2 linked regions of the Homo sapiens genome follow. The protein of the gene in region 1 purifies or fractionates together with the protein of each later gene. This does not show direct contact. Each region holds a gene or a part of one and is shown on either strand. Other genes may lie near its edges.

What was found. The genes of interacting proteins can lie anywhere in the genome.
Region 2: the proteins of CD63 (region 1) and LGALS8 purify together in Homo sapiens (affinity purification with mass spectrometry; 3 studies listed by BioGRID and IntAct, with this or other methods). This does not show direct contact.

Annotation. Positions count from the first base shown.
Region 1 is NC_000012.12:55,725,786-55,733,942, reverse strand, and holds the start of CD63 (CD63 antigen), read left to right. Parts: upstream 1-4,933; 5' UTR 4,934-4,990; exon of another isoform or gene 4,991-5,147; intron 5,148-5,236; exon of another isoform or gene 5,237-5,427; intron 5,428-5,588; exon of another isoform or gene 5,589-5,590; 5' UTR 5,591-5,601; coding exon 5,602-5,667; intron 5,668-6,042; exon of another isoform or gene 6,043-6,079; intron 6,080-6,103; exon of another isoform or gene 6,104-6,331; intron 6,332-6,603; coding exon 6,604-6,792; intron 6,793-6,978; coding exon 6,979-7,053; intron 7,054-7,147; coding exon 7,148-7,243; intron 7,244-7,681; coding exon 7,682-7,822; intron 7,823-8,046; coding exon 8,047-8,130; intron 8,131-8,157. UniProt on the Homo sapiens protein: Functions as a cell surface receptor for TIMP1 and plays a role in the activation of cellular signaling cascades. Plays a role in the activation of ITGB1 and integrin signaling, leading to the activation of AKT, FAK/PTK2 and MAP kinases.
Region 2 is NC_000001.11:236,533,874-236,541,142, forward strand, and holds part of LGALS8 (galectin-8), read left to right. Parts: intron 1-3,623; coding exon 3,624-3,712; intron 3,713-5,005; coding exon 5,006-5,216; intron 5,217-6,690; coding exon 6,691-6,810; intron 6,811-7,269.

The DNA of each region.
Region 1 (8,157 bases):
GATGGAGTCTCACTCTGTTGCCCAAGCTGGAGTGCAGTGGCATGATCTTGACTCACTGCAACCTCTGCCTTCCAGGTTCAAGCAATTTTCCTGCCTCAGCTTCCTGAGTAGCTGGGATTATAGGTGTGCACCACCACGCCCGGCTAATTTTTTTTTTTTTTTGAGACAGAGTCTCGCTCTGTTGCCCAGGCTGGAGTGCAATGGCGTGTTCTCAGCTCACTGCAACCGCCGCCTCCCGGGGTTAGAGTGATTCTCCTGCCTCAGCCTCCTGAGTAGCTGGGATTACAGGCGTGCGCCACAATGCCCGGCTAATTTTTGTATTTTTTAGTGGAGACGGGGTTTCACCACGTTGGTCAGGCTGTCTCGAACTTCTGACCTCGTGATCCGCCTGCCTTGGCCTCCCAAAGTGCTGGGATTACAGGCGTGAGTCACCGCCCTGGCCACACCTGGCTAATTTTTGTATTTGTAGTAGAGATGGGGTTTCACTGTGTTGTCCAGGCTGGTCTCAAACTCTTGACCTCAGGTGATCCACCCGCCTCGGCCTCCCAAAGTGCTAGGATTATAGGCGTGAGCCACCGCGCCTGGCCTGGAGACTCCTTTGTGTTCCCCAGTCTCCACCAACCAGTAAATACATAGTGGTGATGTCGCCATGGAGCCCGTGCACAGTACTCCCCTGGGGGCTGCACTCAGTGCTGGTGCTGGGGCATATAACCTACTCTCTGGAGAGCCCTGCGGGATGGTCTATGAGCTTTTCTGCCAGCAGGACCTGCAAACGCGCAGGTGCAGCCCCTCCTTCACCCTGCGATCTGAGAGATGCCATCAAGCACCGTGCCTCTATCCTTATCCAAAGCTGAGGCCTCTGGACTTAAATTTCAGGCCCCCATTTCAGACCCAACCTCTGGACCTTGAATTTTATCCACCACTCTCCTTACCCTCCCAGTGGGGGGATGGCTTTGATGATGCATCCTTGTTTCCTTCTTCCCTCCCATCCCTATCTCTTCCTCTTCCCTCTCCCCACTCCTCTCTTACACCTATTTTTCAAAAATTAAAGAAAATGTTTTTTAAACTGAAGCCCAAGAAGCATTGATCCTTCATGTATTTTTGCCTCCTCTTCCCCCATCCTTCCCCATGCCTCCCACCCTCCTCTATGTCTCTCACTTTCCGGTTTTTCCTCACCCCTCTCCCAACTCTCCTCAACTGTTCTTTTCCCTTGATTCTGGATCCCTTCTTTCTTCCTCACCTTCCTCATATCCCCTCACCCTCCTCATATCCCCTCACCCTTTCCTGTGCTTAGATGCAGGCTACAAGCTGCTGTGCATGGCACTGGGTCTGGCTGATGCCTACATGCTCTCAGAAGGCTGCAGGTTTGCTTGAGACATCTGTGGCCCCCATGCTGTGTCGCTGGGCCTAGGTGGAGGCGTGGTGAAGCTGGAGGGAAAGCTGGCTTTGCTTGGTGTGGAGGGACAAGGGTCCCCGCCTCAGCACACCTACCACCAACTGGTGCCAGGCAACCAAGAGGCAGCAGCCTGGGCCAGCCAGGACGGCTTGGTGGCATATCTGGATGTCAGGCACTTGGAACAGGTGCTGGGGGATCTGAAGGATGTGAAGGGCCAGGTCTGAGATCAGCCACTTCCCACTAAGAGGCCCCTCTATCCTGCACCCCAGCAAACACATGGAGCTCTGTGTCAACTTTCCAGGCTGTAGAAGTGGGCCATTCTTTGTGTGTATGTGTGTAGTAAAATATATATAACATAAAATTCAGGGACATTGAGTACATACACATTGTGCAACCATCAGCACCATCCATCTCCACAACATTTTCATCTTTCTTTCTTTTTCTTTGAGACAGAGTCTCGCTCTGTTGCCCAGGCTGGAGTGCAATGGCACAATATCGGCTCTACTAAAAATACAAAATTATCCAGGCATGGTGGCGCATGCCTGTAATCCCGGCTACTCAGGAGGCTGAGGCAGGAGAATCTCTTGAACCTGGGAGGCAGAGGTTGTGGTGAGTTGTGCCACTGCACTCCAGCCTGGGCAACAAGAGCAAAACTCCATCTCAAAAACAAAAACAAAAACAAAAAACCTAGATGTTTATGGTTAAGGAAACAAATTAATAATAATAAAAAAGATAATATCGATTCTTACAAAATACAGTAATTAAGAAAATTAATCCTTTATCACAAACTTTTGTAGCAGAGCACATCTCTCCATATATACAAGCATTATACCGAGGGTGAATGTGTTCCTCCTCTTACTTTTTTTTTTTGAGACAGAGTTTTGCCGGGCACAGTGGCTCACGCCTGTAATCCCAGCACTTTGGAAGGCTGAGGGGGCGGATCACGAGGTCAATAGATGGAGACCATCCTGGCCAATATGGTGAAACCCCATCTCTACTAAAAACACAAAAATTAGCTGGGCGTAGTGGTGCGTGCCTGTAGTCCCAGCTACTTGGGAGGCTGAGGCAGGAGAATCACTTGAACACGGGAGGCGGAGGTTGCAGTGAGCCAAGATGGCACCACTGCACTCCACCCTGGTGACAGAGCGAGACTCCGTCTCAAAAAAAAAAAAAAAAAAAAGAGAGACGGAGTTTCACTCTTGTTGCCCAGGATGGCATGCAGCAACACGATCTCTGCTCACTGCAACCTCTGCCTCCTGGGTTCAAGTGATTCTCCTGCCTCAGCCTCCTGAGTAGCTGGGACTACAGGCACACATCATTGTGCCCAGCTACTTTTTGTATTTTTAGTAGAGACGGGGTTTCACCGTGTTGGCCAGGCTGGTCTCGAACTCCTGACCTCAGGTGATCCACCTGCCTAGGCCTCCCAAAATGCTGGGATTACAGGTGTGGTGAGCCACTGCGCCTAGCCCCTCCTCTTACTTTGGGGAACATCCTACTCTGTCTATGGAGCAGCTGTTGTTTCACCACTTTACTTTCTTAATAAACTTGCTTATACTTTGCACTGCGACTCGCCCTGAATCTTTCTTGCATGAGATCCAAGAACCCTCTCTTGTGGTCTGGATTGGGACCCCTTTCCTGTAACAAATGCATTGGCTGATAGGAGAATAAAGAAAAAAAAAGAGGAAAAACTAGAGTAACTTCTCTACATAATCATATTATATGACCGTTTTGTTAACCATGATAACAGTTAACAAAATAATTTTCTTATGTCTAATTCTCAGTCCATGTCTGTATGTCCCAAAATGTCTTTCACAGCTGGTTTGTTCAACCATTCAATGAAGGACCAAACATTGCAGTTGGTTGTTATGTATCTAGTCTCTCAATCTTGATCTTCAGACCACCTTCAGCCCATCTCACCACATCCGTCCCAAGCCCTTTGAGCCAGCCAACCCCAACCTGCCATGTACTTTACAAAATGCTCCTTTTTTTTCCACAGTCGACTGCTTCTCTGTCCCTGGAGCTCTCCCCTTTATTCTCCAAGGTCACCTTGAGCACATCCTTCTGCTCCGTGAAATCCATTCTCCTCTCCCTTTCCCTCCCTCTGAGCTTAACCAGCTGCCACCGCAGGCTTCTGCCTTTCTTCACAGTGTGGCCAGAACTCGGTTCTGCCTGCTAGCAGAGGGCAGGGCCGCTGTCTTCCTCTCCTTGCAGCCCCCAAGCCTAGCACATGCCTGGCATCTAGTGGCAGCACAATAAGGAACCTGATGAATACTCCTTTCTTCTGCTCTCCGCTCCTCCTCCACAGCCTGCCAGCCATGGTCAGGAAGAGCAAGATCCGGAATGGGCTTGGTGTGTCCCGCGGGAAGGCCGTGATCCTGGAAGATGCTTCTCAGCCCAGCCCGGATCTCCTTCCTTTAGCTCTAGAGACTTCTTTCATTCTTTGTGTACACACATACACTAAGACTCAGGAAGTGGTTCTTGAGGCAGGACCTTAAGAGCCCAAGGAGTGGGGCCGAGGCTGGAGGTGTGGGGGTGTGACGGCCGGTCCTACTCTCCGGCCTGTTCAGATCAGCTCCTTCTGGGGACCACCCCTGGCACACAAGGGAGGGAGGCAGCTTGATCCCCCTAGCCCGCTTCCAGCCCTCACCTGGCTTTGTCTTCTGGGATAAGACGGGGAAATCCAGAGGATGTAAGCCTCTCCTGCCTTCGTGTCTTCCCCCAAGCCCTCGCTATCACAGACGGATGCAGGAGCTGTCTGGGAGGCTGGAAGCACAGACCTTGTCAATCCTCCCCCAGAGGGCGGGACCCGACGCGGACGTGTCTTGATTGACTGGGTAGCGTGGCTTCGGGGAAGGGCTTCCTCCCCTTTTCTCAGACTAGGATCCCTGGAAAATGGAGAAGCTGTGCTAATAGAGGGGGGCCAGAAATCCCCACTCTAGAATGCTGTAGAATGTTGGGAGACACCCAGGATGTGAGCCAGGGACTTTCTGGAAGTGTTTGTTCTGGCCCCACCCGACCCCAGGCAGTCCCCAGCTGTCTGCACAGTCGGATGGGGAGGGGGCTTGCACAGAGTTGGAGCCAGAGGAGAGAGCTGGCTCATCCCCTACGGTAGGATGGGGAAACCTCACAGACCACATTGTCACCCGGCCTCAGCTCTCCGCCCCGGCGCTCAGAGGGTAACTCTCACCCACCTCGTCCGCTTCTCTGAACCAGAGTGACCCAGGCTGCGCTCCGCCCCGCTCTCCTACCCCGAGTTGGCACGGAGGTATAGCGCCAGAGGGGGGCCCCAGGCGCCCCGAGGTCTTGCCCTTGCGGCTTTCCCTTTGCGGGGGTGGGCGCCTTCTTCCGGGTAGGGGCCACGTGGCCCTGGCCGGGCGGGGGGCTCGGCCCACCCCGCGCCGGGCCCAGTGACTCAGGCCGCAGCTGTTACCGCGTCACATGAGGGAGGCCGGCGGCCACTCGGCGGGGGAGGGGACCGTGGCTGGAGCCCGGGGCGGGGCCGCGCGGCAGGCGGGGCGGGAGCCGGGGGGCGCAGCTAGAGAGCCCCGGAGCCGCGGCGGGAGAGGAACGCGCAGCCAGCCTTGGGAAGCCCAGGTGAGGCCGCGGGGACCCGGCGGACTTCGGCGCGGGCTGGGAGAGACCACCCGCAGTCCCTTCCTCCAGGGCTCGCCCCAGGCCCGCGGAGACTCGTCCGGCGCTCTCCAGCCGCCCTGGAGCAACTTTGCTTCGAAGTTCCCTGGGCCCGGGCAGGGTGTGGCGGGGGTGCTGGCTGCACTTTTTTTTTTTTTGGTGGGCGGGGAGGTCAGAGCCCAGGGGAAAGGGGCTGGGGCGGGGGTCGGGGTTGGGCTGAAGACCGTTTCTCCAGGCTGGGTGTTGGGTGGGGAAAGGGTGTTTGACGCCCGGAGACTGGCGGGCCGAGGGTCGGCGTCAGGCTCAAGCCCCTGCCGGCGCCCTTGGATCTGTCCTGGGCCCCAGAGGCGGCGGGGCGGGGTCCGGGCTTCGCGGCCGTCGCCCCCACCCCTCTCCTGCGGGTAAAGAGGGGGCTGGGAGACGTGGATCCGACCGCGGGTTTCCGGGTGGGAGGGGCCGGGAATCGGGGCCGTGAAGGGAAGCCCTCGAGGGCCGGCCGGGAGCCCGGAAACCGAGGTCCCCCTTCGGCCAGTTTTAATCCCCCCGCCCTCCCCTCTGCCCCAGGCCCGGCAGCCATGGCGGTGGAAGGAGGAATGAAATGTGTGAAGTTCTTGCTCTACGTCCTCCTGCTGGCCTTTTGCGTGAGTGGCGAGGGGTCCTGGGGGGCGCGCCGGCAGGGTGCGGGGAGACCTGGCTCCACAGTGGTGAGGGCTGAGGGAATGAGAATTAAGGCAGCTGGAGACCAGATGTGGAAAGAAAGCCAGGGAAAGACAGCGCAGCCACTCCCTCCTCCAGTTTTCCTGGACACCTGAGGCTTGTTTCCACCGAGAATGGCCATCCTGGGTGTGCAGCAACCCCTACCCCCATCCCTCCTGGCCCTTCCTGTCTGGTGACCCAACCACTTGTGATATGGGGCAGTGGGGCAACCAGCCAACCGCCTGATGCTATCGCCATGGGGCTTCCCTTCGCTCTCCCTTCTCCCCTCTCTCCCTCCCCAACCCTCTCATCCCTGTCCAGCCCCTCTCCCCCTTTCCCTCCTCCCAGCGCTTGGGGGTGAGGAAGGGCTCTGCCCACTTCAATTTGCTCCTGCCCTGGGCTCCTGGCTTGAGAGGCTACTGTTTGTCTAGGGAGGGACACATCACTCTTGCTCCCTTTTCCTCTTCCCTTCTCCTGGCCTAACTGGCCAGAGGAACCTTAGTCACAGCTGATGCGCGCGTGGGATGTGCACTGGAGGATAGTGAGGGGGCAGTTCTGGGAGAGAATTGAGCTGGGAGCCCTGGAGGCCTGTAGAAAGCATTATTCTAGGTCAGAAATACGTGTCTTGAGGTCAAGGCTTTCTGGGAGGTTTTTGAATTTGGTCATGTCCCTGATTAAAGAGCCGGGAGGGGATCAGGGGAGGTAGGGGCAGGCAAGGATGGGTCATCCCCCTACCCCACAGCCAAAGAAATTCCCTAGAGGTGTGAGAATCTCTCTTCCGGATGGGGTCAAGTCTGTGTCCTAGGTGTACCCCCTGCCCTCCACCATGGAGGGCCACTGTGTTGTGGATATGGCCTAATCCTCACCTGATTTTCTCTTAGGCCTGTGCAGTGGGACTGATTGCCGTGGGTGTCGGGGCACAGCTTGTCCTGAGTCAGACCATAATCCAGGGGGCTACCCCTGGCTCTCTGTTGCCAGTGGTCATCATCGCAGTGGGTGTCTTCCTCTTCCTGGTGGCTTTTGTGGGCTGCTGCGGGGCCTGCAAGGAGAACTATTGTCTTATGATCACGGTGAGTTGGGGGCGGGACCAACATGGGCGGTCTGGGACTGCCAGAGCAGCTTGGTTCGGGCTCAGGAAGGTGGGTGAGGTGGGTGGGTGAGGAAGACCTTTGTGAGTGTCCAGGGACCGGCTGTGCCAAAACGGGCCCCTGTAATGCATAGACTCCAAACTTGACTTCTGTCCTTTGCTCCTGCAGTTTGCCATCTTTCTGTCTCTTATCATGTTGGTGGAGGTGGCCGCAGCCATTGCTGGCTATGTGTTTAGAGATAAGGTAAGCAGGGAATAATGGGAAGGGCCTGCCTCAGCCGGGTCTGGGACCCTGGTGCTTGAATTCTGACTGCAACAGTGCTCCTCCGTACTCTCAGGTGATGTCAGAGTTTAATAACAACTTCCGGCAGCAGATGGAGAATTACCCGAAAAACAACCACACTGCTTCGATCCTGGACAGGATGCAGGCAGATGTGAGTGGGGTTGCTGGGAGCAGGGGTGGTGGGAATAGAGAATTCTCATCTCCAAGGCTGGGTGTGGTGACTCACGCCTGTAATCTCAGCACTTTTGAAGGCCGAGGTGGGCAGATCACCTGAGGTCAGAAGTTCAAGACTAGCCTGGCCAACGTGGTGAAACCCTGTCTCTACTAAAAATACAAAAATTAGCCAGGTGTGGTGGTGAGTGCCTGTAATCCCACCTACTCAGGAGGGTGAGGCAGGAGAATCGCTTGAACCCGGGAGGCGGAGGTTGCAGTGAGCCGAGATTGAGCCACCGCTGGGCACTTGTCTGGGCAACAGAGCAAGTCTCTGTCTCAAAAAAAAAAAAAAAAAAAAAAAAAGAATTCTCATCTCCATATTGAAGGTGAAGGTTCACTTAACAACCTTCTTCTCCATATTTCTTCCCTCCCCCAGTTTAAGTGCTGTGGGGCTGCTAACTACACAGATTGGGAGAAAATCCCTTCCATGTCGAAGAACCGAGTCCCCGACTCCTGCTGCATTAATGTTACTGTGGGCTGTGGGATTAATTTCAACGAGAAGGCGATCCATAAGGAGGTAGGGAGGAGACTGTGTATGGGACTTGGGAAACCTGGGAAATGTTTTAGAATGCAAGAGACCCAGGATGGAGGTGGACAGGGTCAGGGATGGGGAGGGGATCTGGAAATGCTAAGGGTGGGGTGAAAGGTACAGGGGCAGGGAAGAGACTGATGGACCAAGGGAGGGGGTTGGGGTGGGAAGTTTCTGATGGTGCTTTTGTCCTTTGTGCCTGCCACCTTCAGGGCTGTGTGGAGAAGATTGGGGGCTGGCTGAGGAAAAATGTGCTGGTGGTAGCTGCAGCAGCCCTTGGAATTGCTTTTGTCGAGGTAAGAGATAACCCTGAGCAGGGGCTG
Region 2 (7,269 bases), on another chromosome or scaffold:
TCTGCTACTCTACCAATGCCACTGCTGTCTCTGACCCCAGATGTAGCTCCCTCTGACCCTGGATGCAGCTCCCTCTGACCCTCGATATAGCTGCCCCTGACCCCGGATGTAGCTGCCTTTGACCCCAGATGTAGCTTTCTCCAAACCCAGATATAGCGGCTGCCCCCTTGCCAGAGTGAATACTGCGTCATTGTGGCTTCTTCTTGTCACTGGTTCTTACTTAAAAGCTGAGCTGGAAGTTCTAATGGGCAGTTTTGTCACCTGCTCTTACCTTGTTGCAGTCTAGATGAGGTCTAATGTTCATAAGCTAGGGGATTTTCAGATATGGAAAGGGATACCAATTTTCAGCAGCCAAATAGAGTATCACATTTTCACTCCATGTTTCCTGGGTGTCTGTTATGTTTCCTGGGTGTCTGACTCTTAGGCTTCTTTCAAGCTGCAGTCTGCCTAATAGAGAGCCTTGCATTTAATCATCAAAAAGGCAAAGCAATATGAATCAGCAAGGGTGTTTTGGGAAATAACAGCAAACCTGACTGTGGCGTAAGCTTGTGGTATTGTCTCCAGTGTGATCAGATCTGTATTTTAATTTTTTAAATGTAAATTAATAATGATCTGTGAATCACCAAAGTAGCTTGGAGTAGCCTAGAAAACAATGTATGTCCTCCGTTTTCACAGAAGCCACATAGTCGTGGGTTAAATGAGTCAGCGGCAGGGCACTGTGTCTCATAGTTAAAAAAAAAAAAAAGTATTACTGAAGTAATGCAGGATCTTTTCTGAAGTAGAAGGCATGATGAACCCAGAAAACTAAAGCAGCAAGTGGCCACCGTTCTTAGCATAGTTGTTTCTCAAACTGGAACAACCTATAAACAGTTGTGAACAAGGTATTAGAAGTGATGGGGGCCGGGTGCGGTAGCTTCTCCCAAAGCTCATTACCTCCCAAAGCAACCCCAGTACTTTGGGAGGATCACTTTGAGCCCAGGAGTTCCAGACCAGCCCGGCCAACATGGCAAAACCCCATCTCTCTAAAAGTACAAAAAATTAGCTGGGCATGGTGGCACATGCCTGTAGTCCCAGCTACTTGGATGGCTGAGGCAGGAGAATCGCTTGAACCCGGGAGGCAGAGGTTGCAGTGAGCTGAGATCACGCCACTGCACTCTAGCCTGGGGGACAGAGTGAGACTCTGTCTCAAAAAAAAAAAAAAAAAAAAAAAAGTGATGGGAATAGATTGTTTTGTCTCAAAAAGCTCTTTCCAACACTAAAATGAAACATATAATTAAAAATATTTTTCTGGCTATAGAAATATCGATGCTTATTATAGACATCTGCAAAGTATGAAAATATATGAAGAAAAAAATTAAAATCCCATCATCCCCCATGAAAACTATTGTTATCATTTTTGTCTGATTTCTTTAGTGTTTCTCTTTTTCTTTTTTTAATTTTTAATTTTTTTGAGTATGTAGTAGGTATATCTATTTATGGGGTATATGGCATATTTTGATACAGGATACAGTGTGTATTAGCAAGGTTTTCTTTTTAATGTTTATATTTATTTAGTTGAGATCATACTATATATGGCTCTATAGATTACTTTCTCACTTATATTACTAACTTGTGTTATTAAATATTCTGCATAAAGATAATTTTAAGATGAAATTTGATGTTATAAAAACTTCTCATTTTATTAAGAGATTAACGCTATGAAACCTGCTGCTATATATTCTTGGAACCAGCTGTGACCCAAAAGATCAATGTAGGGATGTAGGTCCTTCCCCATTCTCTACACACAAAATCAGATACTCTGATGTGCAGCTGTAGCCCCAGTCTACACTGTCTGTTGTATTTTTTGTTTTCTGGTGTCATGTGCCTCCCACCCTGCTCCTAGCAATTGCCATGACAACAAATAGATAATTGGCTTCCGTAATTTCTCATCTTATTGCCTAAGGCAACAGAGAGCTTGTGGGCTCAGCTTGCGGTTCAGCAGCTGCTTTGTTGCCTCTCCTCTGTATGTGTGAGGCCTGCCAGAGCCCACTTTCCAGACAGGTGAGAGTTCATTCATTCACCATGCAGTTACCGATCGTCTCTTGACCTGTGTCCTGGGGAGGTAAAGGTGATGAGCCAGTTCTGCCCCATGCAGCTCACAGTCTAGGCAAAGCTACATGCAAACAAACAGAATCCAAAGTGCTATCATGAACCCTCTGAGAGGGGCTGACTCAGCAGCCCAGGGAGCTTGAAGAAGGCTCCACAGAGGAGGCTGTGCCTCAAGGCGATTTCGGTTTAGGAGCCACCAATTTATAACCACTTTTCTGTGGCCCGTCTTATTTTATTTCTTATTTCTTGACAATCAGAAGTACCTTGGGTAGGTTTTACCATGCACATCGTAATTTGAGTGAGCTTAGTGTGAGGCTTAACGGTGTGTGGGCTGTACATCCTGGTCAGATGCTCTAGATGGAGGCAGATGGTTGTGATGCAGGAGAGGCAGCCACATAGCACAGGTCCCCAGCCAGTGGACTGGGAAGACAGTGTAGTCATCTCTGGGGAAGGGGAATGACAAGATCTGGCAGTGTGGCAGGTCCCAGAAAAAAAGGGCTGGGTTCTGGGCAGTGAGGGTGCAGGTTGAGACCTGAATACTGGGTGGAGCCAGCTGTCAGAGTCCACGCCTGCAGACTGGACTGGTCCACGGCAGGTGGATGCCATGTCTTGAAGACCCACAGGCACCCACTCATCCTCATGATCATGCAGTTCTCTGGTTTCTAACAGTGCAGTCTGGGTTGCAGTCTGGGAGTCCAGCAGAGAAGAGCAGGCCCTGGAATCCCAGGTGTGGGGGCGTGGCTTAACGTGGAGTTTCCTTCAGAGGCAGTGAGTGCTTGTCATTGTCTCCGTCAGCATTGGCTTTGGGCCTAGTGTGGCCTCGAACCTTCTGTTGGGATCAGCAGTGGAACAGTAGGAAAAGGAATGAGTAGACATGGCATTGCAACAAGTCTTTTTTTTTTTTTCTGTTAGAATTATCATATTAAGCAGAAGTTTTGCTTCACAAACTCTCAGCCAAATACAAAATACTATGAATAGTATTTACCTTGTGTCTCTTTCCAAAGAACTCATAGTGGTTTGCAGCTATTGCAGATATCCTGGCCATGAGGTATGCAGTTCCTTTTTTTTTTTTTGAGACGGAGCCTTGCTCTGTCGCCCAGGCTGGAGCATAGTGGCGCGATCTCGGCTCACTGCAAGCTCCGCCTCCCAGGTTCGTGCCATTCTCCTGCCTCAGCCTCCCGAGTAGCTGGGACTACAGGCGCCCACCACCACACCCGGCTAATTTTTGTATTTTTAGTAGAGACGGGGTTTCACCGTGTTAGCCAGGATGGTCTCGATCTGCTGACCTCGTGATCCTCCCGCCTCGGCCTCCCAAAGTGCTGGGATTACAGGCGTGAGCCACCGCGCCCGGCCGCAGTTCCTTTTTCTAGCTGTTTGAATAGGAAAGATGACTTGGAAAATGCTGGATTCTGAGCAGATTTATGTGCAGCCTTAAAAAGTGTAGTTTTTCTCTATCAATAATGAGTGTGGGTTGTAATTGCTTAGTAAGTAATTTTGTTTATGTAAACGTACATTTGTTAAATTTTTTTTCTTAGGTAATCCCGTTTGTTGGCACCATTCCTGATCAGCTGGATCCTGGAACTTTGATTGTGATACGTGGGCATGTTCCTAGTGACGCAGACAGGTAAAATCACTGTGCTAAAGGAAGGAGCATGAATAGGCTGTCTTTTTGTGATTGTGGAATGATAACAGAGTAAGGCGGGAGAGACCATTTGATACTTTGAGGCCCAATTAGCTTTCATCAGCAGCCCTGGCCAAGGTGCTGAGGAGATTGGAATGAATGACTAAATAAAGGTTATTGGGATTTATTTCATTGCTGTAAGTCTGATTTCAGTATAAAAAATTAGAACTATCAGCTGGATGTGGTGACTTAAACATACTTTTCCAGCACTTTGGGAGGCCAAGGCAGGAGGATTGTTTGAGGCCAGGAGTTTGAGACCAGCCTGGGCAACATAGTGAGACCCCCCATCTGTAAAAAAAAAAAAAATTTAAAAATTAACTGGCTTGGTGGTGTGCGCCTGTAGTTGTAGCTACTCAGGGGGCTGAGGTAGGAGGATTCCTTGAGCCCAGGAGTTTGAGGTTGCAGTGAGCTGTGATCGAGCCACTGCACTATAGCCTGGGTGACAAAAAAAAAAAAGAAAAAGAAAAAGAATTAGGTATGTCATTAAAGAAAGGAATTGTGGTCAGATGACAGGGACAGTCTAGTTTTAGTCTGACATTCCCACAGCATTACAGATCTAGTTCAGATGGTTTTACTGAATACCTGCTTTGGATACAAGCTGTGGTATCATTAGTGTTGGGCTCAGCTCTGTGTACCTAACACCTGAAGAGCAGTGGTTTAAGATGTGAAAATTAAGTCTCAAGGAGACAGCCCAGGCCTTTTCAGTTAACTCCTTCAAGTCGTTAGAGAAGTAGACTCCTTCGAGCTCACCACTCTGTTATCTTGAGGGTGAGGTAAGGTCCCCTTTCCCGTTTTCCTTGGCAGCCAGATTTCCAGCCCTCACTTCTGTGCTTTGGGTAGCTGGATGGGTGCATGTGGTGTTTGCGGGGAAACAGAGCTGGACAAAAGGCAAGTGCTTGCTGACTTCTAAGGCAGTTTCCAGTAGCCTTCCCTGAGCACTTCACTTCCATCTTACCAGCAGAGCTTTAGCTGCACAGGCAGGCCTAGCTGCGAGGGAGGCTGGGAAAGGTAGGTTTTTATTCTGGGCAGATTCAGACCCAGTTCAAACTCAGGGGCTATTTTACTGAGGAAGACAGAAAAGATTAGACAGTCAGCTCTTTAGGCCTCATAGTGAATGAATGAGGAGGGATTGGTCAGTCCCTTGTCACTGGGCCTGGAGTGTAGTGCCTGCTGGTCCTTTACTGGTGGCTTTCCTTTCTGAGCACTCATGGGGCCCCTGTGTCTTCCCTCATATAGATTCCAGGTGGATCTGCAGAATGGCAGCAGCATGAAACCTCGAGCCGATGTGGCCTTTCATTTCAATCCTCGTTTCAAAAGGGCCGGCTGCATTGTTTGCAATACTTTGATAAATGAAAAATGGGGACGGGAAGAGATCACCTATGACACGCCTTTCAAAAGAGAAAAGTCTTTTGAGATCGTGATTATGGTGCTGAAGGACAAATTCCAGGTAGGTTTTGGAGAGGGACAGGTTGAGTCCTCATTAGTGAGCAGGAGTGCACAGGGGTGCTTTTCACATTTGTGAGCCCAGCCTTATATTTCCTACACCTGAGATATAGTTTGTTTGGCTTTGTAGTTTTTCTCCATAAAAGGACCAGGAAGGCACCTAAATGTGAGGTATGGCACCACTACTCTCCAGCCAGTTGTTGCCATGCAGAAATATGGTCCACTGTGACCAGATCTTTTTATTAGATCCTATTTCTCCTAGCAGGGCTGAGTTCCGAATTGACACAGTATTATGTTCATGATGGGAGGGTAAGTTATAATATAACCGCCACCACCCGAAGAGCTAACAAGGGCAATCCCAGCGAAGAAATCAGAAGGGTTTTGTAAATTCAAGTCTTGCCACAAGACAGTTCCGTAGGATCATGAGATTTTAGACCCAGAGGAGATCCTAGAAATCCTTGATGTCAGTTCCATCTCTGGCTTCATGGAGTGTCTTGTACCTAGCGTGTATGTGTACGGTTGAATTTGGTCCCAGAAGCTTACACCTGCTGGCCCTCTGGCCTGTGGAGCTTGCCCACAGTAGAGGTATGTACCAACGCGAGAGAAGACTCGAATGCCTCTGGCGCAGATCCTTTCTGATCTTCGGGATACTGCTCCTGCCCGAAAGTCTTTCTGAATCTCCCAAACTCCATTCACCTCTCCCTTCTCTGGCCTTTTGAGCCCGTGTCTGTATCATTCTTTTTCACAGTTTTTAACAGTTGTGCTTTGGCTTTACGTGTTTATTTTGCCTCCACAATGGGATTTTAAGCTCCCTGAGTCAGAGACTATATTGTATGCTGCTCGCGTTTTCTGCCTATAACCTAACGTGGTACCTGGCATTTGAGAGGGAGGGAGGAGGAGCCTCGTAGCGTGCCGAGGACCTGCAGAAGCTACTTTCTCGTCATCTTACTGTAGTCTGTTGAGGTAGAGACTGTTCCTACTTCAGAATAAGAAAACCGAATTCAAATATGTTGGGTAACTTGTCCATATTAATTTATTTAGCAAATACAACAGATTTTGAGTGTCTGCCACATGGGTGGTCTCCAGGGACAGTGTTGTGGGGAGCTCGCAGGCAGATCTTTAACCTGGGTTCACAATCTCCAGGGCACCTGTGCCTGGGCTTCCAGGCGACCTTCGAACCCAGATGTCTCACATGTATGCAGAGGCGCACACAAGCACACGCACATATACTTATGACTGCCTGTTTGTCTGGGGAGAGACAGTTCCTGGTGCTTAATCAAATCAGGAACTCAAAAGAAGTTTGGAAGCACTGCTAGTGTTTTGGGTGCTTTCGGTTACCATTTGGTCATGTGTGTGGAGACCTGTGGGAACAGGTATAAAACTGGACGCAAGGAAACATTTAAATTTGGATAATAAGTTAATTTATTAACTGTTTTTTTTTGGTGGCGGGGGGGGCTCTGTCTTCTGTATCTCTCTAGGTGGCTGTAAATGGAAAACATACTCTGCTCTATGGCCACAGGATCGGCCCAGAGAAAATAGACACTCTGGGCATTTATGGCAAAGTGAATATTCACTCAATTGGTTTTAGCTTCAGCTCGGTGAGTGACCTTCCACAGCTTGGGGTCTTTTATGAGGATGGTTTCTGATGAGATGGTAGAAAAAATCTTCAAATAACACTTCTATTGACATAAAAAGGACGTATCTCCCTGACTGTAGTATTAATTTTTTGGAAGTGAACTGTTCACACTAGCAGAAGGCTGTTTATCAGCCAGGGCTTCATTGTCTGTAGGATCTCAAACCTAGTGTGGTTTTAATAAAACACACACAGTTTTTAGCTGGGTAGCAGCTATTTCCTTTGCATGGGCATAAAATGGAGTATTTCTGTAAGACAGGTTCCTAGGCTGGGAGTGCCTGAGTCAAAGAGCACAGTCATGTGTTGCATAAGGACAGTTCAGTCAAAGATGAACCACATATACAACCGTGGTCCCATAAGATTGTCATATACTGTATTTTTACCATACCTTTTCTATGTTTAGGTAAGTTTATATGCACAAATA